Linked DNA regions of Homo sapiens. The protein of the gene in region 6 purifies or fractionates together with the protein of the main gene of each other region. This does not show direct contact. Each region holds a gene or a part of one and is shown on either strand. Other genes may lie near its edges. The genes, in order: LRP4, TRIM11, MRPS27, TDG, PLIN3, ZSCAN26 and MYBL2.

What was found.
Region 1: the proteins of ZSCAN26 (region 6) and LRP4 purify together in Homo sapiens (affinity purification with mass spectrometry; 3 studies listed by BioGRID and IntAct, with this or other methods). This does not show direct contact.
Region 2: the proteins of ZSCAN26 (region 6) and TRIM11 purify together in Homo sapiens (affinity purification with mass spectrometry; 3 studies listed by BioGRID and IntAct, with this or other methods). This does not show direct contact.
Region 3: the proteins of ZSCAN26 (region 6) and MRPS27 purify together in Homo sapiens (affinity purification with mass spectrometry; one large-scale study listed by BioGRID and IntAct). This does not show direct contact.
Region 4: the proteins of ZSCAN26 (region 6) and TDG purify together in Homo sapiens (affinity purification with mass spectrometry, with the first as the bait; one large-scale study listed by BioGRID). This does not show direct contact.
Region 5: the proteins of ZSCAN26 (region 6) and PLIN3 purify together in Homo sapiens (affinity purification with mass spectrometry; one large-scale study listed by BioGRID and IntAct). This does not show direct contact.
Region 7: the proteins of ZSCAN26 (region 6) and MYBL2 purify together in Homo sapiens (affinity purification with mass spectrometry; one large-scale study listed by BioGRID and IntAct). This does not show direct contact.

The regions. Positions count from the first base shown.
Region 1 is NC_000011.10:46,873,551-46,877,050, reverse strand, and holds part of LRP4 (low-density lipoprotein receptor-related protein 4 precursor), read left to right. Parts: intron 1-220; coding exon 221-307; intron 308-413; coding exon 414-585; intron 586-1,084; coding exon 1,085-1,247; intron 1,248-1,369; coding exon 1,370-1,595; intron 1,596-1,947; coding exon 1,948-2,251; intron 2,252-2,634; exon of another isoform or gene 2,635-3,457; coding exon 3,458-3,500. UniProt on the Homo sapiens protein: Mediates SOST-dependent inhibition of bone formation. Functions as a specific facilitator of SOST-mediated inhibition of Wnt signaling.
Region 2 is NC_000001.11:228,400,336-228,403,835, reverse strand, and holds part of TRIM11 (E3 ubiquitin-protein ligase TRIM11), read left to right. Parts: intron 1-1,674; coding exon 1,675-1,770; intron 1,771-2,641; coding exon 2,642-2,872; intron 2,873-3,500.
Region 3 is NC_000005.10:72,310,241-72,313,740, forward strand, and holds part of MRPS27 (small ribosomal subunit protein mS27), read right to left. Parts: intron 1-3,500. UniProt on the Homo sapiens protein: RNA-binding component of the mitochondrial small ribosomal subunit (mt-SSU) that plays a role in mitochondrial protein synthesis. Stimulates mitochondrial mRNA translation of subunit components of the mitochondrial electron transport chain.
Region 4 is NC_000012.12:103,982,872-103,986,122, forward strand, and holds part of TDG (G/T mismatch-specific thymine DNA glycosylase), read left to right. Parts: coding exon 1-63; intron 64-264; coding exon 265-347; intron 348-423; coding exon 424-518; intron 519-1,877; coding exon 1,878-2,049; intron 2,050-2,731; coding exon 2,732-2,857; intron 2,858-3,251. UniProt on the Homo sapiens protein: DNA glycosylase that plays a key role in active DNA demethylation: specifically recognizes and binds 5-formylcytosine (5fC) and 5-carboxylcytosine (5caC) in the context of CpG sites and mediates their excision through base-excision repair (BER) to install an unmethylated cytosine.
Region 5 is NC_000019.10:4,857,668-4,861,167, reverse strand, and holds part of PLIN3 (perilipin-3), read left to right. Parts: intron 1-1,143; coding exon 1,144-1,342; intron 1,343-1,495; coding exon 1,496-1,578; intron 1,579-3,500. UniProt on the Homo sapiens protein: Structural component of lipid droplets, which is required for the formation and maintenance of lipid storage droplets. Required for the transport of mannose 6-phosphate receptors (MPR) from endosomes to the trans-Golgi network.
Region 6 is NC_000006.12:28,270,143-28,273,642, forward strand, and holds part of ZSCAN26 (zinc finger and SCAN domain-containing protein 26), read left to right. Parts: intron 1-1,711; 5' UTR 1,712-1,777; coding exon 1,778-2,197; exon of another isoform or gene 2,198-2,527; coding exon 2,528-2,645; intron 2,646-3,500. UniProt on the Homo sapiens protein: May be involved in transcriptional regulation.
Region 7 is NC_000020.11:43,714,548-43,716,982, forward strand, and holds the end of MYBL2 (myb-related protein B), read left to right. Parts: intron 1-586; coding exon 587-736; intron 737-1,411; coding exon 1,412-1,540; 3' UTR 1,541-1,935; downstream 1,936-2,435. UniProt on the Homo sapiens protein: Transcription factor involved in the regulation of cell survival, proliferation, and differentiation. Transactivates the expression of the CLU gene.

The DNA.
Region 1 (3,500 bases), on a different chromosome or scaffold from region 6:
AGCACTCTCTCTTTGGTTGTGAGAGCATGGTTTGGGGCCCTCTTCTCTCCGTCTCTGCCAAGAGCTATCCTGCTATGATATTTCTGCGTTTTCCTTGATTTCCTCTGCTAGAGGCTCCAGAGCTCTCTGACATGCTCTGGTGTTTCAAGACATGAATCAGCTGTGTGTGTCCCATTGTAGGCGGTGAGGGTCTAGGTTGAGCCAAGCTTTCCCTCTCCAGGAAAGGTGTACTGGTCTGACAGCACACTGCACAGGATCAGTCGTGCCAATCTGGATGGCTCACAGCATGAGGACATCATCACCACAGGTGGGCCTTCCTCCTAGCCCAGGGACCACCTGTCTGGCAACAGGGCTGGGGAAATAGCCCATCTGTTTTAAAATAGGAGCCAGTGTGCTCTTTTGACTTCCCACAGGGCTACAGACCACAGATGGGCTCGCGGTTGATGCCATTGGCCGGAAAGTATACTGGACAGACACGGGAACAAACCGGATTGAAGTGGGCAACCTGGACGGGTCCATGCGGAAAGTGTTGGTGTGGCAGAACCTTGACAGTCCCCGGGCCATCGTACTGTACCATGAGATGGGGTGAGAGCTGGCTGTATCGCACTGGGTAGTGTGGGGGGCCAGCTCAGCTGGGGTTATGACGGGGTAAAGGTGGGTAGTGGAGAGGAAGCTTGCATCACAGAAACAAGGTGACCTCCCTGGGGCTCTTCCACTCTCTTGTGACTTCTCGCAGGGTGACAGTACAGTGTAGAAGTTAAAAGCATGAGCCTTGAATCAGAATACCAGGATTGAAATGTTTTCATCATGTATTAGCTATATCACTTGGGTCCGGTATTTAACCTCTCTAATTCTCAGCTTCCTTACCTATTAAATGGAGGTGGTAGTGAAAATACATACCTTGTGGCCCTTATGAAGGTTGAGATAATGCACATGAAGTATTTTGCAAAGTACTTTGTCAAGCAAAAATTTTGCCTGACATACTGTAAGTACTCAAGTGTATCTGACATACTGTTAAGTATTCATGGTATGTGGTAGCTGCTGGAATAACTAGCTAATATAGCTAATATTCTTCCTCACTCAGGTTTATGTACTGGACAGACTGGGGGGAGAATGCCAAGTTAGAGCGGTCCGGAATGGATGGCTCAGACCGCGCGGTGCTCATCAACAACAACCTAGGATGGCCCAATGGACTGACTGTGGACAAGGCCAGCTCCCAACTGCTATGGGCCGATGCCCACACCGAGGTGAGAGCCGTGTCCCTGCTGCTTCCCAGGAGCCTGGGAAGATGGGAAAGGCCTGCCTAGGATCTCCATGGAGAGTTCCCAATCTGCTGATCACCACCCCCCACCCTCTCCTTCCTCTGCAGCGAATTGAGGCTGCTGACCTGAATGGTGCCAATCGGCATACATTGGTGTCACCGGTGCAGCACCCATATGGCCTCACCCTGCTCGACTCCTATATCTACTGGACTGACTGGCAGACTCGGAGCATCCACCGTGCTGACAAGGGTACTGGCAGCAATGTCATCCTCGTGAGGTCCAACCTGCCAGGCCTCATGGACATGCAGGCTGTGGACCGGGCACAGCCACTAGGTGAGAGTCAGAGGGCTGGGGCTGTGAGTCAGAGCCTCTGGCTTTCTGGGGCCATCTCAACATCAGAGATATATCCAGAGCACAGAGCTCCTTTACAGCCAGAAAGACGGTGACCTGTTTAAGCTCCCTTCCAGATTGGGCTGTGTTCTCTCTGGGTATGGCTGGTACTACAGCTGTCACCTTCAAAGGACTCCTGGAGATCCTCCTGCAGACCCTCCTTCTACCTCACCCTGCCAGGCACTGAATCCTGTCACTTAGAACAGCAAAGAGCCAGCCACAAACAACTGGGACCTTTGTAAGATTCAGATGATGTTCCAGGCTAGGTGTGAATACTTGTGCTTCTCATCACCAGGTTTTAACAAGTGCGGCTCGAGAAATGGCGGCTGCTCCCACCTCTGCTTGCCTCGGCCTTCTGGCTTCTCCTGTGCCTGCCCCACTGGCATCCAGCTGAAGGGAGATGGGAAGACCTGTGATCCCTCTCCTGAGACCTACCTGCTCTTCTCCAGCCGTGGCTCCATCCGGCGTATCTCACTGGACACCAGTGACCACACCGATGTGCATGTCCCTGTTCCTGAGCTCAACAATGTCATCTCCCTGGACTATGACAGCGTGGATGGAAAGGTCTATTACACAGATGTGTTCCTGGATGTTATCAGGTATGAGCAACACTGAAACCTCCAGAAGACACAGATTTGCTTCTGGTCGCCCATGGGTGAGGTTGTGTTCTGACCACTAAATGGATGAGTGATTTGGCACTTTGGATAGTGAGTTTTAATCCTGACTTGTTCACTTTGTAGTGTTGTCACTTACAGCAGAGTTTCAAACTTTCATTTGTTTAGAGATTATATGGAAGCCTAGTATGTAAAACAAACAACAACAACAAAAAAAACAGGTAAAGTCAGGGGACCTGGAGACTTTCACATCTACCATTGTGCCCTGAGGGAGCTCCAAGAATCCCCTAGGACTTACTGATGAGTAGGCCATATAACCAGTATCTGTATTGCAGTAAAGGAGCCCCAATCAAATGCCAAGTCTTATGGTGGTTTACAAAGCTGTTGTTTTTTATTTTTTCGTTGTTTTATTTTTAGTCTTTAAATTTGTGGCCCTAACACAGCTTAGGAATATGATGTCCTGCCACCAGTAAGAGTGGTTTACCATGGCAGATATTCTCACATGGAGGAACAGGGAACATTCCCCTTTGCTCTCCCCAAGGGATGTATTAGAATCTCAAACTGGGGACAGGTAGGCATATACAGTTTAGGGAAGTCCCCTAGGTGACAGTGACATGCTCCCCATTCTGAGGTAGAGTTCCCTCCTGCCCATAGGGCCTTTGCAAAAGTGCACAATTAGGGTCTGGCGTGGTAGCTCGCGCCTATAATCCCAGCACTTTGGGAGGCCAAGGCGGGAAGATTGCTTGAGCCCAGGAGTTCAAGACCAGCCTAGGCAACATAATGAAACCTCATATCTACTTGTATTTAAAATTGTTTTTAACTTTTAAAAAATGCACAGGTTGGTTTTGACAAATCTGCGTTTCTTATCATCACCACCTAGCAATCCTTGTCTCTTCCCAAAGGTATGTGGGGAATGATAAACTTGTCTTCTAGCAAGACATCCCCTGGCAACCGCCACTATGTCCAGTTAGCAGGAAATACTGTGTCCTCCTAAGAACTGGTTCCTTCATTCTGCAATTATTTTATTGAACATCTATCATGCTGGGTGCTGAGGAATGTACTCATAGATACCTGGTCTCTATCCCTGTGGAGCTTACAGTTCAGTGGGGTCCAGTTATGGGAACATGGGTTAAAGTTCTACTCTATTCTGGGTCAGTCTGGTTGCTCATCCAACACTGGGCTCTCCCCAAGGCGAGCAGACCTGAACGGCAGCAACATGGAGACAGTGATCGGG
Region 2 (3,500 bases), on a different chromosome or scaffold from region 6:
AAAAAATACAAAAATTAGCTGGGTGTGGTGATGGGCACCTGTAATCCCAGCTACTCAGGGGGCTGAGGCAGAAGAATCACTTGAACACAGGAGGCAGAGGTTGCAGTGAGCCGAGATCGTGCCACTGCACTCCAGCTTGGGGGACAAAGCGAGACTCCGTCTCAAAAAAAGAAAACTGAAAATGTCCCGTAGGGACTGAGGCATTGAGGGAGAAGTGAGAGGCACTGGGCCAAGTGTTTGAGGTGGGGTTGGGGTCACAGGGGCCAGGCCTGAGTTTTCTGGAACAGGTCGGCAGCAGTGAGGAGAGAGGCCTGGGGACAGGGACCGCCATTTGGGGTTCTTGTAGCTCACGTGAGAGCTGAGCCTAGGCAGAGACAGTAAAGCAGTTGGACATGTCCTTGGTGCTCCAGCGGTCTTCCCGAATCGTGAGGCCAAGTGGTGAACTAAAGTGAGCACCTGGAGCCAGGCAGCTGGGCTGAAGTCCTGGCTCTGCTACCGGGGCAGACTTCTGGACCCTCCCAGCACCTCCATCCTTCCAGAGCGTGGATAGCGAGAGATGAGAGCCAAGACTTGGGGTGGCTGAGAAGCAAAGAGGTGTGGCCAGCACAGGGCCCGTTGCTGATAAGGGTGTCAGATGGGGTGGAAGTGAGCAGACCCTTCGAGAAGTGGGTTCAGGGCACCCCAAGCACACACAGTACAGTGAGCTTGTGTACAGGATTTTCACTGCTTCCTGGTATGCACAGCATGAGGAACCGTGGGAATGAGAATTAAGGACCAAGAAAGCAGAATGGAGGTGTACCCATCCTGGAGCTTATTACAGTGATAGCTGATGAAGCTGAAAATGCACAAGGTCCCGAGTGGCTTGGAGAAAAGATAGGGTGGGTAGCCAGGCATGTCTGTCCGTGCTGACTGTCCTACCAAAACACCATGGTTTGCACATGGCAGATGTATACAAGCTGGAGACTCACAGCTCTGGAGGCTGGAAGTCTAAGATCAAGCCCTGGCAGGTTTGGTGTCTGGTGAGGGTGCTTCCTGGTTCACAGACAACACCCTCTCACTGTGTTGTCATATGGTGAAAGGGGCGAGGGTTCCTTTATAACACTAATCCCATTGTGGCGGCACTGCCCTCCTGACCTAGTCACCTCCCAAAGCCCCCGCCTCCTAACATCATCACACTGGGTGTTGGGATTTCAACCTATGAATTTGTGGGGGCATAGGGCAGAATTTTTGGACCCCAGCATAGGCTTGGTCCAAGGCCCTTATGTGAGCCAGCAGGTGAGAAGGAAGAGGAGGAGGAGTAGACACTGGCTTGGGAACAGGAGAGCTCAGCACCTTCAGAGCCAGCTTGGGGACAGATGGGGTGGGCAGCCAGAACCCTTGAGGTAGCTTTGCAAAGGGGGGTGAGGCCTGGGCTAGGGTAGCAAGGTCGAGGACTAGAAATGCCCCATATGAGAAAAAGGAAAGAATGTGGCTGGGGCTGTCAGCCTCTGGCAAGAGGCTGCCCACCTACCATGAGGGCTCACGCTTATTGGAGGGCATTGAGTTCCCTGATTCACCAGGCAGATTTCAGTTTGTCCCCATTGTCTTTGAGGAGGGGACAGGGTGTCAGGTGCAAAAGGGCAGGCTTCTGTGACAGGACTCATGTCTCATGGTCCTGCCTGGCCTCTCCCGCAGGCGAAGCTGGAGAAGTCACTGGAGCATCTCCGGAAGCAGATGCAGGATGCGTTGCTGTTCCAAGCCCAGGCGGATGAGACCTGCGTCTTGTGGCAGGCAGGTGCTGGGGCTCCCAGGGTCCTGGGTGGCAGGGTAGGGGGTGAAGGTCCTGTATAGGAGACCCCAGGGGGCGATGCTGGCCAGGCACACTTGCCCTTGGCGCCCCAGGACCAGTCACTGCTTCAGCCTGGCCCCACCGAGCCCACTGAAGGGCTGGTCCTTTCCCACGTGCACCTGTCCTGCCAGGTCGTGGGCGTGGGCTCCCATACTGCAAGGGCCCCATCCTGGGGTCCCAGCATGCTTGGGTGGCAACTCTCAGGTGTATTTAGGGTCTGGGCCCTGGAGGTAAATTTGGAGGTTTTGAGGGACTAGGTCATAGATGTGGGATTCAGCCATCCTGAGGAGTAGATTTGGGATCTGTCCAGTTCTGGGGTAGATTTGGGGTCTGGGAGGCTCTGGGTGGTGGATTTGGGATCTGGGAAGCCCCAGGGGAGAATTTGGAGGTCAGGAGGGACCCTGGGTGGTAGATTTGTAGTCCAGCTGGCCCCAGGTGGTAGATGCAGGGTTCTACCAAGCCAATGGGTGGATTTGGAAGTTGGGGAGGGACTAGATAGTGGATTTGGGATCTAGTCGGCCCTGGGTTTAGATTTGGGGTCTAGCCAGTCCTGTGTGGTAGAATGGGATTTGGCTCTCCCTGAGTGGTGGATTTGGGGTTTGGGAGGTGCCACAGGTGGGTTTGGGGTCTGGCCAGCACCAGGTGGTGGGTTTGGGGTCCTGCCACACCTGGTGCTGTGCTTTGGCTTTAGCAGGCCCCGGGGGTGGGGTTGGGTGCAGCCAGGCCTCTGGGTGGGCTTGGGGTCTGACCAAACTTGGGGTCTGGCTGGGCCTGGGGTCTGGCCTCAGCTGTCCTTCTCCCTGGGCTCCACAGAAGATGGTGGAGAGCCAGCGGCAGAACGTGCTGGGTGAGTTCGAGCGTCTTCGCCGTTTGCTGGCAGAGGAGGAGCAGCAGCTGCTGCAGAGGCTGGAGGAGGAGGAGCTGGAGGTGCTGCCCCGGCTGCGGGAGGGCGCAGCCCACCTAGGCCAGCAGAGCGCCCACCTAGCTGAGCTCATCGCCGAGCTCGAGGGCCGCTGCCAGCTGCCTGCTCTGGGGCTGCTGCAGGTGAGCTGGGCGGGGAGCAGCCATGGTGGCCACACGGGCATGGCCTGGCCACACTGGGGGAGGGAGAACCAGAAAGTGCAAGAAGCAGGGGCAGAGAGGTTGTCTGGGCTGAGAGGTGAATGGCATGGCTGGATGTGCCTGGCTGTTGCCTGTGAAATGCTGAGTCAGCAGCAGGACAGATGTCCCACCCCCAAAACCCACGTGCCGAGAAAGGGAAAATCAATTTTCCTCTGTAGATGTAAACAGTTGATGTTTCTTAAGTGATTACATAAGGTCACTCCATCTCGTCCTGACTGACACTGCTGCTCCCTGTGGGCACAGCAGAGTGGGCATGTGCTCGCTGGGACCACCTTGGGCCTCCCATAGGATTCCTGCCATGGTGTCCCCAGCAGGAAGTCCTCGCCCTTCACTCTGTCTTCACCCCGCTGGCACACCCCATGCATCTCCATTATGGGGGGCAGTCTCCTCCTCCTCTGCTTCCAGGAGAGTCTTTTCCCATGTGTGGGCTCCACTCCCTGAGCCGGCCCCCTGGGCCTGGGCTTTCCTTGGTGCACCCCCAAACCAGAACCAGTGGACGCCCTGGCCTGTGGCCTGGCGGCAGGTCAGGGGGCCTGGAGTCAGCTCTCTC
Region 3 (3,500 bases), on a different chromosome or scaffold from region 6:
CAAAAGGACACCTAGCACCTAGATCTTGGTTTCTAATGCCATTCCTCACCAAAAGTAACCAGAGCTCCTTGGAGAAATGGTTGATTCCAGGGCTAGGCCAGGAAGGGTACACAGTGAGCCTGAAACACCTTGTTATATGAGAGAAAGTAAGTTATCAAAAAAGAGGGGGGTGGGGGAAAATGGAAGCCAGCTTGAAAGGGCTTCTATCAGCCAAGTCTGGGATATTTAGACCACCAAAATAATTGAGAAGGGTAATGAATCATTTAAAAAATTCACAAATTGATGATTTAAACATAATGCATGATAATAAACAGATAAATGAGAAAGAAATGAGAGAAAAGGAAGAGTTCTTGCTTATAGTAGAATACTGAGTGTTAGCTAGTAAATCTGGAGAAATTTTCAGAGTTGGAAAATCATTACTTTGCAACCATTATAGTAAAGATTGATTCAGGCTAAAGCCATGAATGGATGCCAAATCTAAGAGCAAACTTTTGATAAACAACATATTTGCATTACATTAAAGTCTCTCTCCGAGAATAGCCTATTAATCAGAAGGGAGAAAAACAGTAACTCTGCAGTGGAGAAATCAGACACAGTTGACTAGGTGATCAAAACTGACATCACCAGTGAAGGCATATGATATCAGGTATGTCCACATGTGATACCCTGGCAGGGGCACAACATCACTGAGAGTATTCTGGCTGGGGAAGCATAACAATGAGAAAATAGCAGAAAAATCCAAGAAAGAGGAATATTCTATTTAAAAAAAGAGATTGGGTTCTTTAAAAATATATAGGACAATGTCATAAGAAACAAAGAAAGGATAAGGAACTATGATTCTAGACAGCATCCTGTACTGGAAGAGGAAAAATGCTATGAGAGACCCTATTATTGGGTCAATTCCCAAAACTGGGATATGAATAGTAAAGTATTATATTAATGTCAAAATTTCCGAAGTTGGTAACTGTGCTATGATTATACAATAGAATGTCCTTATCTCAGGTAATGTACATTGAAGTATTCAGGATAAAGAGCTATAATATATGAAACAAACTCCCAAATGATTAAAGAAAGTGTGTATACAGGGGGAAGGAGGAGAGAGAAAGCAAAAACAAATGAATCAAAATGGTAACGACAGGTGAACATGAGTAAAAGTAGCGCTGTGGTTTAAATATTTGTCTCCTCTGAAACTCATGTTGAAATTTAATCCCCAGTGTAACAGTTTTGAGAGGCCAGTGGATCATAAGGGCTCTCCTCTGATGAATGAATTAATCCATTCATGGACTAATGGGTTAATGGATTGATGGGTTATCACGGAAGTGGGACTGGTGGCTTCATAAGAGGAAGAGAGACCTGAGCTAGCATGCTCAGCCCCCTCGCCATGTGATGCTCTGAGCCACCTCAGGACTCTGAATAGTCCTCACCAGCAGGAAGGCTCTCACCAGATGCCACCCCTCAACGCTGGCCTTCTCAGACTCTCTAACTGTAAGAAATAAATTCGTTTTCTTGATAAATGATCCAGTTTCAGGTATTGTTATAAACAACAGAAAACAAACTAAGACAGATATAGAGGAGTTCTTTGCAGTTTTTATAAGTTTAAAATTATTTCCCGCTGGGCGCGGTGGCTCAAGCCTGTAATCCCAGCACTTTGGGAGGCTGAGGTGGGCAGATCACCTGACACCAGGAGTTCAAGACCAGCCTGGCCAATAGGCAAAACCCTGTCTCTATTAAAAATGCAAACATTAGCTGGGCGTGGTGGCGTGCGGCTGTAACCCCAGCTACTCAGGAGGTGGAGGCAGGAGAATCGCTTGAACCCAGGAGGCGGAGGTTGCAGTGAGCCGAGATGACGCCACTGCATTCCAGCCTGGGCGATAGATAGTACAGACTCTGTCTCAACAACAATGACAATAACAACAACAAAATTATTTCCAAATTAAAAGATTAAAAAAATTTGCCATGTCATTTGTGACATAATTATACCATCAAAAACAACCTGTTTATCATTAATGGAACTAACTCCATTTTTCATATAAGCAAAGTTTTTTTAATGGAAAATAAGGTGAATTTTGCAACTCTATATTGAGGGAAGACATACCTTTGAATCAATCAGAACTTTACCAAGAGTTGTTCATTCTATAAATAAAATTATGTCATTATGATAGCGCCACTCCTGGTATTTGAATTTGCCAGTATACCGCATCTCTACCCATCTACACTTCTTCCATGTCTATAATTATTCCACATTTATATGCAATATTTACCTGCTTCATTGTTTCTTACTGTAGTTTTGCCTGGACATTTGTTTACAAATTGAAATACATATTGTTTAAGTTACTTCCCCTTTGTTTCTCCTCTGTATCGTGGCGAAGGAATCATACTGATTTTTTTTTTTTTTTTTGAGATGGAGTCTTGCTCTGTTGCCCAGGCTAGAGTGTAGTGGCAAGATCTCGGCTCACTGCAACCTCTGCCTCCCGGGTTCAAGCGATTCTCCTGCCTCAGCCTCCGGAGTAGCTGGGATTACAGATGCCTGCCACTGCGCCCGGCTAATTTTTGTATTTTTTAACAGACGGGGTTTCATCATCTTGGCCAGGTTGGTCTCAAACTCCTGACCTCATGATCCACCAGCCTCAGCCTCCCAAAGTGCTGGGATTACAGGTGTGAGCCACCACACCCAGCCATATACTGGTTTTTAAAACAGTAAGTATAGATAGATTATATTAACTATGAATTTAGTTTCAAGATGGCAAAAGAAGAGTATGATAAAGTACTTGTTATAAGAAGGCTACCCTGGGCCTCTTATAGACAGAATGAGACTGTAAGTTTCTCATGGAGAAGCTGCGATTACTTATCTTCAGATCTTCCACAGCTCTGCTTCAGCTGGCCTGTGCACATACACCCATCTCAGAGCTCACAGCCAACTCTGCTTGTGCAATCACATCATCAGTAAAGAAAAGGATGAGATCTTTGAAAATCCCAATAAGGTAGCCATTAGAGACAGCAATGTCTCCTGCACTTATGGGAAAAATCCATAAACACAGGGGACTTTATTCTTAACTGACATAAGCCCAAAACACAGCTAAAGAAATCTGGGGGAATATATTAGATCAGCATAGGAATTGATCCAAAAATTACATCAGTCTCATAAAACTATCACCAATCTATTTATTTTATTAATGTTCCGATGATGTTATATATACCAAAGGGCAGGCAGTACCAAAAGTCTAAAGTATGCACATTTTTAAAAACTGCTCATTGAGTCAGTGATTTCTTTTGGGGCTTGGTATTTTACAAAAGAAAGGCTGTTGTCTGTGTAATATGACATAGGGAACAGGAGAAAAGAAAGTATAATTATAAGCCCAAAGCCTGGGAAGATGTTAACCAACTATTTCTCTAAACAGCTTACATGAGATTGTAACATTGCCTTCAAACCTGTCACCTGGTAATGAAATAGAGAAGAGTCAAAAAGGGCTCTGAAGACCACAAGAGGAGTTAAGAAAATA
Region 4 (3,251 bases), on a different chromosome or scaffold from region 6:
GTATGGTATTGGATTTACCAACATGGTGGAAAGGACCACGCCCGGCAGCAAAGATCTCTCCAGGTAAGTACACAGCATTTGCTTTTATGGGTTGGAACCTTGAGTATGCTGGTGCCCCAAATATTCTAGGAACATCATATGTATCTAGTTCAAGCTGAGCTCAACAAATGTACAATATGCTCTTTCATTGAAAGCTGTCTGAATTTAGCATATTATAAATATTGTCATATTTATATTTTTGACTACTTTTTAATTCAATTTTAGTAAAGAATTTCGTGAAGGAGGACGTATTCTAGTACAGAAATTACAGAAATATCAGCCACGAATAGCAGTGTTTAATGGAAAATGTAAGATTTACTTTTAAATTTTTTTTTTCTTTGCTAACATTATGGGCAATGTAAATATGTTTGTATTTCATTTTAGGTATTTATGAAATTTTTAGTAAAGAAGTTTTTGGAGTAAAGGTTAAGAACTTGGAATTTGGGCTTCAGCCCCATAAGATTCCAGACACAGAAACTGTAAGTCCCTAAAATTGAATTTGTAAATCAGCTAAATGTGAATTTTTTTCTAGATAATTTCCTTATTTGTCCTATCCATTGTGATTTATACCATGCAAAACAATTACACTGTATTTTGTTGAATAATACCTATACATCAGCTTTAACTAATAGTTGTAAATTAATTCAAATACTATTAGGGTTTATTAGAAAGAAAAACATTTGTCAGCTAAATGTCTTGATGTTGTTATTCAGTGAAAATATTGAGAGGAACTGGCTCATATACTACATTCAGAATACATTTAATGGCATGTAGTTGTCAAATTCAAATGGTTTAGCCCTCGTACTGTTGTGAAACAAACATGGAAACACAGACATGATCCTGATTAGGAAAACCAGTTGCCCCATTTATATATCTTAGCTCAACTTCATTTTAGAGCCATATAAATAATACAACCCAGACAAGCCTCCAGCCAACCTAACTGGCATTCAATACTGTTGTCTTATACACAAAGTCATCATGAAATAACAGTGTTTTTCAAATTGTCCTCTCTACAGAGCTTCTGCAGGCATTTGGTTCCAATTTTGCTTCTTAGTTTTAGGTTTTATTTACAACTTTTAAAGAACAACACAGTGCACAGATTTACATGTTGTATATACAACATCTTAACTGATGGAGAAGCTAATTTGCTGCCAGGTTTTTGTGGAAACCTAAAAATGTTTCTGCCACCTAAATATATTTAAATTTCTCCTTTAAAATTGTTTTTGTTCATAATTTCTTATAAATATGCAATTGATGAGTTTTATTATAGCATTGGTTTTTGCTTAAATAAAGGCCCACCTTTGTCTGCTTGGTTAAAATGGTACAAATTCACTACCTGTAGTGAATTGTAGAGAAATTCCTGTAGAGTACTGTGTCATTCTCTGTTACATGCCATTTGGAGGCCGGGCGTGGTGGCTCATGCCTATAATCCCAGCACTTTGGGAGGCCGAGGCAGGCGGATCACCTGAGGTTAGGAGTTCGAGACCAGCCTGGCCAACATGGTGAAACCCCATCTCCACTAAAAAATACAAAAATTAGCCAGGCATGGTGGCATGCGCTGTAATCCCAGCTACGTAGGAGGCTGAGGCAGAAGAATCGCTTGAACCCAGGAGGCAGCTCATTAGGCGGAGGCTCATTATTTTTCACTTCCTGACTTGGTAATAAGTCAGTATTACAAATTCAACCTTAAAAGCAACTACTTTTATTGATTTTTACATATATTTATATGTAGTTAAGTATCAAGTTATTAACCCAAATAAAGACAAATATTCTAATCTCAATGAGTGAATTCAATAGAATTATAAGATTTCTGAAATTATAAAATGTTGTGATTCTAGCTCTGCTATGTTATGCCATCATCCAGTGCAAGATGTGCTCAGTTTCCTCGAGCCCAAGACAAAGTTCATTACTACATAAAACTGAAGGACTTAAGAGATCAGTTGAAAGGCATTGAACGAAATATGGACGTTCAAGAGGTGCAATATACATTTGACCTACAGCTTGCCCAAGGTATGTTACTGTCCTCATTCCTTTTATTCATTTTGTGTGTGTATATATACACATATATACTTACATATATATACACATATACATATATACATATACACATATACATATGTGTGCACATATATGCACACGTGTATATATACATGTGTATATATACATATATACACATAAGTATGTATGTCTATATACATATATGTGTGTATACACTTGTGTGCGTATACATATGTGTGTGTCTATATATAGACACATACACACACACACACACACACACACACACACACACACACACACATTACAGAAAGTATCTTATGGATTTAAAAGCAGGAAAAAAGAAAACAATTATATTCGCAGCCAGAGTGCTCTGATAATGAATATTAGTCACTGTTAAAATCTCCTTTTACCAAGGTCTTCCCTCTACTCTGGCACTTCTGCAGATAATTCACCTGCAGAGTGCCAGAGCAGAGGGATGTAAGAAATATTGTACCCTACGTAAAGTTGAATGTAAGCGGTTTTTACAGTTCTTATGTGTTTATTTAGTACATGCTATAAGTTTAAAAGATTAATAGAGATGTATCTCAGTGTATATGAATATTCAAGAAAAAGAATTGTTCATGATTTCTGAATAAAGCTACTTTTAAAATTGTTGTACAAAATCAGATTTAAATCCTTTTTACCTTCCTCACAGAGGATGCAAAGAAGATGGCTGTTAAGGAAGAAAAATATGATCCAGGTTATGAGGCAGCATATGGTGGTGCTTACGGAGAAAATCCATGCAGCAGTGAACCTTGTGGCTTCTCTTCAAATGGGCTAAGTATGGTTCCCTCCACATGTGTATTCCTTTCAAAGACGGTTTGGTCAGGATTGGGGGGAAAATTTTAATAGAAGGAGAGTAAATTATTGAAGAATGGGAATGATAATATGAAATTTTATTTAGTGACTAATAGTGAAAAATTGATGGTTATTTCACGTTGAATTACACAGACTTTTACAGTACATTTTCTTTTTTGTTTGTTTGTTTTTGAGACAGATTCTCGCTGTGTCACCCAGGCTAGAGTGCAGTGGCTCGATCTTGGCTCACTGCAAGCTCCCCCTCCTGGGTTCACACCATTCTCCTGCCTCAGCCTCCCGAGTAGCTGGGACTACAGGCATCCGCCACGATGCCTGGCTAATTTTTTTTGTATTTTTAATAGAGACAGGGTTTCACC
Region 5 (3,500 bases), on a different chromosome or scaffold from region 6:
CCCAGTTGGGAGGGGGGAATCTCAAAGGCCCTTGGAGGGCCTGAGGGAGCAGGGTTCTGTCTGAAACTACCTGCCCTCCCCAACCCCTGAGCCAAATCATCCTCACCTCTGAAGGCTCTCTCAGGGACGTCCTAGGAGGCCAGTTTCTATTCCAGATCTCTCATCCTCAGGTGATTTTATTTTATGTATATATTTTTGAGATGGAACCTTGCTGTGTCGCCCAGCCTGGAGTGCAGTGGTGACATCTTGGCTCACTGCAACCTCTGCCTCCTGGGTTCAAGCAATTCTCCTGCCTCAGCCTCCCAAGTAGCTGGGGTAACAGGCATGTGCCACCACGCCCGGCTAATTTTTGTATTTTTAGTAGAGACGGAGTTTCACCATGTTGGCCAGGCTAGTCTCAAACTCCTGACCCAAAGTGACCCACCCGCCTCGGTCTCCCAAAGTGCTCGGATTACAGGCGTGAGCCACTGCTCCTGGCCCCAAAAATAATTAAAATTTAAAAATCAAGTGGTGCGCTGGCTGTGACCCATGGGCTGTGGTCTACAGCCCCCGGTTTAGACCCTAACTGCCATGAGAATGGAACTGTTGTCCCTTATCACCACCTGGCACATCGCTGGGATAAAGTGCAGGCTCATGTAAATAGCCTGTGTTCAAGGAAGCACGTGGGCTGAGTGCGGTGGCTCACGCCTGTAATCCCAGCACTTTGGGAGGCTGAGGTGGGCGAATCACGAGGTCAGGAGTTCAAGACCAGCCTGGCCAACATGGTGAAACCCCATCTCTACTAAAAATACAAAAAAATTAGCTGGGCGTGGTGGCACCCGTAATCCCAGCTACTCAGGAGGATGAGGCAGGAGAATCGTTTGAACCTGGGAGGTGGAGGTTGCAGTGAGCTGAGATCGCATCAGTGCACTCCAGCCCGGGCAACAGTGCAAGACTCCGTTTCAAAAATAAAATAAAAATAAAGGAAGCACGTGGCGAAACCCCAAGGTTCCTGGCTTGTGCAACTGCCTGGATGCAAAGTGTGGGTAAACTGAGCCGTTTCACTGGCCAGGAGTAAGAGCAAAACTGCAGGGCACCCTGAGTTTCCGGCTGAGCTCCCCATCTTCCCCCACCCAGTTTGCCTGAGCCACTTCTCTCCTGTAGCCCAGTGTGGTGGACCGTGTGGCCAGCATGCCTCTGATCAGCTCCACCTGCGACATGGTGTCCGCAGCCTATGCCTCCACCAAGGAGAGCTACCCGCACATCAAGACTGTCTGCGACGCAGCAGAGAAGGGAGTGAGGACCCTCACGGCGGCTGCTGTCAGCGGGGCTCAGCCGATCCTCTCCAAGCTGGAGCCCCAGAGTGGGTGAAGTCCCAGGGGGCACTGAATTCCCCTCCTGGTCATTTCCCTGGGTGGGGAGTAGGGGGGTCTACCCAGCTCTTGGTCCTGTCCCCCTGAACCATTACTAGGTGACCTTCCAGCAGTCACATTTGCGTCTTAATTGTTGTTGGCAGTTGCATCAGCCAGCGAATACGCCCACAGGGGGCTGGACAAGTTGGAGGAGAACCTCCCCATCCTGCAGCAGCCCACGGAGAAGGTAACGATGTCCGTCCTCAGGGGCTCTGTCGAGACAGGGACCTACCTGGGTGTGGAGTGCGCTGGTCCCAGCTTAACTAGACAAGCTTGATGGCATCCTCCCTGCTGCCTCTCCTGTCGGTTCCCATCCCCACCCCGAATCCACTCCCCACAGGGTAGCTGGAGGAATAATTGCAAAGCCAGCCAGATTACAGGCGCCTGCAACCATGCCCATCTAGTTTTTGTATTTTTAGTAGAGATGGGGTTTCACCATGTTGGCCGGGCTGGTCTCGAACTCCTGACCTCAGGTGATCCAGCTGCCTCAGCCTCTCAAAGTGCTGGGATTATAGGAATGAGCCACGGTGCCCAGCCCACTTGTTTTTATAATAAAGTTTTATTGGCACACAGCCATGCCCATTTATTTACATATTGTCTATGACTGCTTTCACCCTACAATGGCAAGGTTGAGTAGTTGTGACAGAGACTGTGACCCACAGTACTGAAAATCTTAGTTACGTGGCCCTTTACACAGAATGTTGCCACCTCCATAACTTATTAGTCAGAAAAGGTTGGCGGCAGGAAAGTCAAAACATCAAAACACCATGTTCCTGGCCGGGCGCGGTGGCTCATGCCTGTAATCCCAGCACTTTGGGAGGCCAAGGCGGGAGGATCACCTGAGGTTGGGAGTTTGAGACCAGCCTGACCAACATGGAGAAACCCCGTCTCTACTAAAAATACAAAATTTATCTGGGTGTGGTAGCGGGTGCCTGTAATCCCAGCTACTCGGGAGGCTGAGGCAGGAGAATTTCTTGAACCCTGGAGGCGGAGGTTGCAGTGATCCGAGATCATGCCATTGCACTCTAGCCTGGGCAGCAAGAGTGAAACTCCATCTCAAAAAAAAAAAAAAAAACCAAAAAAACACCATATTCTGGCCAGGCGCGGTGGCTCATGCCTGTAATCCCAGTACTTTGGGAGGCTGAGGTGGGCGGATCACAAGGTCAGGAGATCGAGACCATCCTGGCAAACACAGTGAAACCCCATCTCTACTAAAACTACAAAAAAAAAAATTAGCTTGGCGTGGTGGCGTGTGCCTGTAGTCCTAGTTACTCGGGAGGCTGAGGCAAGAGAATCACTTGAACCCAGGAGACGGAGGTTGCAGTGAGCTGAGATCGCGCCACTACACTCCAGCCTGGGCGACAGAGCGAGACTCTGTCTCAAAAACAACAAAACAAAAAAAACACCATGTTCCAAACTGTGTCCTGCCCCTCAGCAGCTGGGTGGCCCTCACACAAGTTACTTTGCCTCTGTGGGCCTCACTTTTTTTTTTTTTTTTTTTTTTTTGAGACGGGGTCTTGCTCTGTTGCCAGGCTGGTGTGCAGTGGTGCAATCTCGGCTCACTGCAACCTCCACCTCCGGGTTCCAGCGATTCTCCTGCCTCAGGCTGCTGAGTAGCTGGGGTTGCAGACGTCTGCCACCACGCCTAGCTAATTTTTGTATTTTTAGTAGAGACGGGGTTTCACCAAGTTGGCCAGGATGGTCTCAATCTCTTGACCTCGTGATCCTCCCGCCTCGGCCTCCCAAAGTGCTGGGATTACAGGCATGAGCCACTGTGCCCGGCCCCCTCTTTTTTTTTTTAAGATGGAGTTTCGCTCTTGTTGCCCAGGCTGGAGTGCACTGGTGCAGTTTCAGCTCACTGCAACCTCCACCTCCCAGGTTCAAGCGATTCTCCCGCCTCAGCCTCCCGAGTGGCTGGGATTACAGACATGTGCCACCACACCTGGCCAATTTTTGTATTTTTAGTAGAGATGGGGTTTTACCATGTTGGTCAGGCTGGTCTCGAGCTCCCGACCTCAGGTGATCCACCTGCCTTGGCCTCCCAAAGTGTTGGGATTACAGACATGAGCCACCAGGCCCAGCCTGGGTCCCACTTTCTTTTCTACAGAA
Region 6 (3,500 bases):
CTGATAATCATCACTTTCTTGGACTTTTTTACTTATATTAAGAATACTAGGAATTGGCTTTTTAAAGTTTAAGTTCATTTTGACTAAGAAAAATAATTATCAGCTGGGAAATGTTAACTATATACACATTCAGGAATATATAACAGCAAACTGTTTGGAGGCTAAGCCACTGATTAAGTGAGCCTTCTCCCGTTCTCCCACTTACCGCATGCACATTGATTCAAAGGCATGTGTCAGCAGCTGACAGATGGTGTTTCACTGATCTATAGGGATACTCAAGCATAGTCAAAATCAAGAATGCTAAATCCCCACATACCAAGGGCCTGCCCCAAAGGATGGTAGGGAATTGTCTGAGTTCATTTTTGACATGTTGGATTTGAGAGGCTTCTGTAGGGTATCCTGGTCCCAAATAGGCAGAAGGAAATTCAGGTCTGACACTTGAGATATCTGACCTGAAGAATAAGGAAATCATCAGCATAAGGACAGTAATTGAAGTCACAAAAATACTTATACTCTACATTAGCCCTTTCTAGTTTCTGCCCTATCTTTCTTGTTCCATTCAATGTATTACTTTTTTGAAATTTGTCATTTATGCTCACTCTCCATTTTCTCATTTCCTATGGCAGGCTAGCTATTCTCACTACCAAAATTACCTTCACAGAGGTCACTAATGACATCTTTGTTTTTGAATCAAGTGTCTATGCCAGGTCTTAGATTAATTCACCATCTTATAGCATTTCACACTCTTGAACACTGTGCTCATATCATTTCCCTTATAAATCAGTGAATTCCTTCTGTTCTTTAGAATTATCTCATTTACCTCAAAACTTCTGTGAATTAGGTATTATCTTCATTTTACAAATGAGTAAACTAAGTCCAAAAGGATAAGTTACTTGCCCCAGGTCACAACATGTAAGTGACAGGGCTGGATTGGAACCCAGGCCTGTCTAAGGCCCAGGGTCTTTCCACCATTCCACATTTACAGAAATAGACCTCCTTGACCTTCTGGATACTATTGTCTTTTTTCTCCTCCTACCTTTCCAGTTCCATCTCACTTCTGTTTCTTACATGTAGATGTTTCCCAGGATTCCGGCTCCATATAACGTTTTCCCAGCCATAACTAACTACTACACTGAACATCCAACAGCTTTATGGTGTCTTTTTTGTCTGAAAAAACTTTCTCTATTTCCTTGTCTTTCACTTGTCTTTTTTCTTTTCTTTTTCTTTCTTTCTTTCATTCTTTTTCTCTCTTTTCTTCCTTTTTTGATATAGGTCTTGCTCTGGTTGCCCAGGCTGAACTCAGACTCCTGGGCTCAAGCAGTTCTCCCTCCTCAGCCTCCCGAGTAGCTTGGATTACAGGCATGTGCCACCATGCCTGGTGTCACTATGTTGCCCAGGCTGGACTCAAACTCCTGGGCTTAAGCAGTCTTCCCACCTCAGCCTCCCAAAGTGCTGAGATGACAAGTGTAAGCCACAGTGCCTAGCCTCAGTTATTTTGAGGGCTACAAAATGGTGATTTTTCAAATCTATTATTCCTTCTACATTAGATGGTATTCTGTAAGATAGTTTTTTCCTTCTGTATGTATGTTTAGAAATGGTTGTTTTAGAGAGAAAAAATGGATAATAGGAAATGTATAAACCCAAGAAAATGTTACTGTTCTTGTTAGCAGTACTATTACTGTTTCTGTCACTCTTGTTACTATAATTTTAGGAGTGTCTCTGAAGATACAGTCCAAAGAAAGTTCTCCAAAACAAGGAGAACAGTCTGAAGCTGGGGATGGCAACAGCATTGGTGAGTGCCCATTCCCTGGCTCCCCTGAATCTGAAGAAGGAGGGGCTTCGGGTAGTGAGGGAGGATCACTACTCTACTTGGGAACAGGGATTCAAGCTGCAAGGAAACAGTAAAGGCCTTGGACAGGAGCCATTGTGCAAACAATTCAGGCAGTTGCGTTATGAAGAGACCACAGGACCTCGAGAAGCACTAAGTCGGCTCCGGGAGCTCTGTCAACAGTGGCTACAGCCCGAGACCCATACCAAGGAGCAGATCCTGGAGCTGCTGGTGCTGGAGCAGTTTCTGATCATCCTGCCTAAGGAGCTCCAGGCCCGGGTGCAGGAGCATCACCCAGAGAGCAGGGAGGACGTGGTTGTTGTTCTGGAGGATTTGCAGCTGGATCTTGGAGAAACAGGACAACAGGTGGTAAGGGTCAGATGTGCTCTTTTTCAGGAATGCAGGAATTGAGATCTCTGGCCAGACAGGTGGACATGGGCTCATCAGCGGAAGGAGAATTACTAAGCTTTGATTCAGTTTTTTTCCAGTCTAGCTGTTAATTTCCTTAGGTCTTACCTCAACCTTACCTGGCCCTTGCTTGGAGAAAACTGAATGTGCACCAGATTCCCCATCTTCTTTTCTTTGCCCCTCTGGGGTTTCTCTTTCTTCTCTTTTTTAACACCTAGGTGTTTTACTGAACAGCAGTTTCCTAAACCCACATATATCTAATTATGCCTCCATATACCTAATTGTCCCTAGGACCCAGACCAGCCAAAGAAACAAAAAATACTTGTGGAGGAGATGGCCCCTCTGAAAGGAGTACAGGAACAGCAGGTTCGGCATGAGTGTGAAGTTACAAAGCCTGAGAAAGAGAAGGGTAAGAATTGGATTGCATCTTCTGTGTGTGAGACGTGGTGGACTGTGCCTTTCCCTCTGAGGTTGTGCTTAGCACCCTTGTATTTTGTTTTTTGCTTTTGTTTTGAGTCAGGTTTACTGAAGCATAATTTATATGTAGTAAAATTCACTCTTTTTAGATGTACAGGTCAATGAGTTTTCACAAATGCGAAATAATTGTGGTCTAATCAGGACCACTATCAAGAGATAAGAGATATCTATCACCCCAAATATTTTAGCTGAACAAAATAGCAAGAAAAGGGTACAAAGGGAACCTGGACCTTCACCTTGCTCTTCTTCCTCTTACTGTAGGGGTGAATAAAAAAAGCAGTGCCAGGCCAGCTACTTGGGAAGCTAAGGGAGAAGGATCACTTGAGCCCAGTTCAAGGCTGCAGTGAGCAATGATTGTTGCACTGCACTTCAGTCTGGGCAACATCTCTTAAAAAAGCAAATAGTGGCCAGGCATGGTGGCTCATGCCTGTAAACCCAACACTTTGGGGGGCCAAGGTGGGTAGGTATACGAGGTCAGGAGTTCAAGACCAGCCTGGCCAAGATGGTGAAACACTGTCTCTACTAAAAATACAAAAATTAGCCAGGTTTGGTGGCGGGTGCCTGTAATCCCAGCTACTCGGGAGGCTGAGGCAGAGAACTGCTTGAATCCAGGAGGCTGAGATTGCAGTGAGCTGAGATCACGCCACTACACTTCAGCCTGGGCGACACAGCAAGACTCTGTCTCAAAAAACAAACAAACAAAAAAAAAAACAAGTACTGCTAGTTTCTTAATCAAGGCAAAGAAAGCCACATGCTTCATTACTCATTTTTTAACATTTCCTTCAAA
Region 7 (2,435 bases), on a different chromosome or scaffold from region 6:
AAACGCACACACGTTTCTTTACTTGATTACTTGATTTTTTTTTTTTAAGTAAGAAAGTTCTTTAGAACAAGATTAAGTTCTTTGCTTAATTTTTTTTTGAGACGGAGTCTGGCTCTGTCTCCCAGGCTGGAATGCAGTGGTGCAATCTCGGCTCACTGCAAGCTCCACCTCCTCCCAGGTTCGCACCATTCTTCTGCCTCAGCCTCCCAAGTAGCTGGGACAACAGGCGCCCACCACCACACCCAGCTAATTTTTGTGTTTTTAGTAGAGACGGGGTTTCACCCTGTTGACCAGGATGGTCTCGATCTCTTGACCTCGTGATCCGCCTGCCTCGGCCTCCCAAAGTGCTGGGATTACAGGCGTGAGCCACCGCTCCTGGCCCTTTGCTTAATCTTTTAAGTATAAAGTAAGCTTAAGCTCATGTAAACTCCCTATCTGAAAGCAGAAACTGAGGCTTGGAAAAGTGTGTATCCTCTTTCAGGTCTCAGCAGCCAGGTGGTGGTGCTGGGGTGGGATTGCGGGTTTTTTTCTTCCCTCTCACAGCTTCTCGCAAAATGGTGACTCCTTGACTTGGTTTTGGTTTCAGCCGACAACTGCCCCTTCAAACTCTTCCAGCCTCACCCTGTCAGGTATCAAAGAAGACAACAGCTTGCTCAACCAGGGCTTCTTGCAGGCCAAGCCCGAGAAGGCAGCAGTGGCCCAGAAGCCCCGAAGCCACTTCACGACACCTGCCCCTGTGAGTGCTGTGGCCATCTCTGGGGGTCCTGCAGTGCCCGCCTTCTTAGCTCAGGGCTGAGTGCTGGCCATCCCTGGGGGTCCTGCAGTGCCCGCCTTCTTAGCTCAGGGCCTTTGCATAGGCTGTTCCTCTGCCTGGGTGCTTTTCCTGCTACTTCCCGTGGCTGCATTTGCTTAACTTACTCTTCTGATTTCAGTCTCAATGCTGCTTCCTTAGGGGTAAGCCTTCTCTGACCCTACATTCTGTAGAGATACCCCCATTCTGCCATTCTCTCTTTTGTGGCCTGGGTTTCACTTGTAACTAAGTCATTATCCCTGTATTTGGTTTGCTTAGTACATGTCTGTCCTCAAGCAGGGGCTGGCTTCAGGCTGCTGACCCGTCTCACTGCTCCTTCTCACCCGCCTCCTGGCTGTGGCTTCTCCTCGAGGCTGGTGCTGCACGGGGCGGGCAGTGCATGGCCATGTCTCCTTGTCCAGCGTCCTACTTACAGTTGAGGAAGCCCACAGCCAGGAAGTGACTTGTCCAGGGTCACAGGGAATGTGGAGAGAGAATAAGAAGGCTCTGGCTTCTAGGGGAGGGAGGCTTATAACTCTACCCTTCCCTGGCCAGGATCACCAGGGTCTGTTGGGAACACATAGTCCCTGCCTGGATGGTAACCCTCTTGCCTCCTCCCAGATGTCCAGTGCCTGGAAGACGGTGGCCTGCGGGGGGACCAGGGACCAGCTTTTCATGCAGGAGAAAGCCCGGCAGCTCCTGGGCCGCCTGAAGCCCAGCCACACATCTCGGACCCTCATCTTGTCCTGAGGTGTTGAGGGTGTCACGAGCCCATTCTCATGTTTACAGGGGTTGTGGGGGCAGAGGGGGTCTGTGAATCTGAGAGTCATTCAGGTGACCTCCTGCAGGGAGCCTTCTGCCACCAGCCCCTCCCCAGACTCTCAGGTGGAGGCAACAGGGCCATGTGCTGCCCTGTTGCCGAGCCCAGCTGTGGGCGGCTCCTGGTGCTAACAACAAAGTTCCACTTCCAGGTCTGCCTGGTTCCCTCCCCAAGGCCACAGGGAGCTCCGTCAGCTTCTCCCAAGCCCACGTCAGGCCTGGCCTCATCTCAGACCCTGCTTAGGATGGGGGATGTGGCCAGGGGTGCTCCTGTGCTCACCCTCTCTTGGTGCATTTTTTTGGAAGAATAAAATTGCCTCTCTCTTTGTGCTGGTCTGGACTCTGCCTCTCTACTGGGCCCTGCTCATGGTTCCCTGGTGACCTAGGGGCCTCTTCTGGGATATAGGGACCTGAATGCTCATCCTCAGAGGCCAGCCTTATCGGCACAGCCCAGGCCTGAGCCCTTGACCCTGTTTCCACAGAGGGGCACAATGAGATGAGAGCAATTTCTCTCGTCTCTGCACCCAGTGGGCATCTCTGCAAAGCTCTGAGTATTAATAGCCATGGGGTTGGGCGGGGGTGGGCAGAGACTGGGGGCGGAGGAGGACGATGGGTTGGTGCAGTAGGGCCTTGCCTGGCCCTTGCCTTGGGTGGCTCACCTGCCCATTAACAAGCCCCTGCCTCAAGCTGAGCGTGGCCCCCAGGTCAGACCAGTAAGCAAGGAAGAGGGGTGAAGGCAGCTGGGCAGAACCCTCTAGCCCCATTGGCCAAGGCTGAGCAGGAGGCCAGGATGGGCCAGAGCCTCTGCCCTTGTGGCCCTAAATCC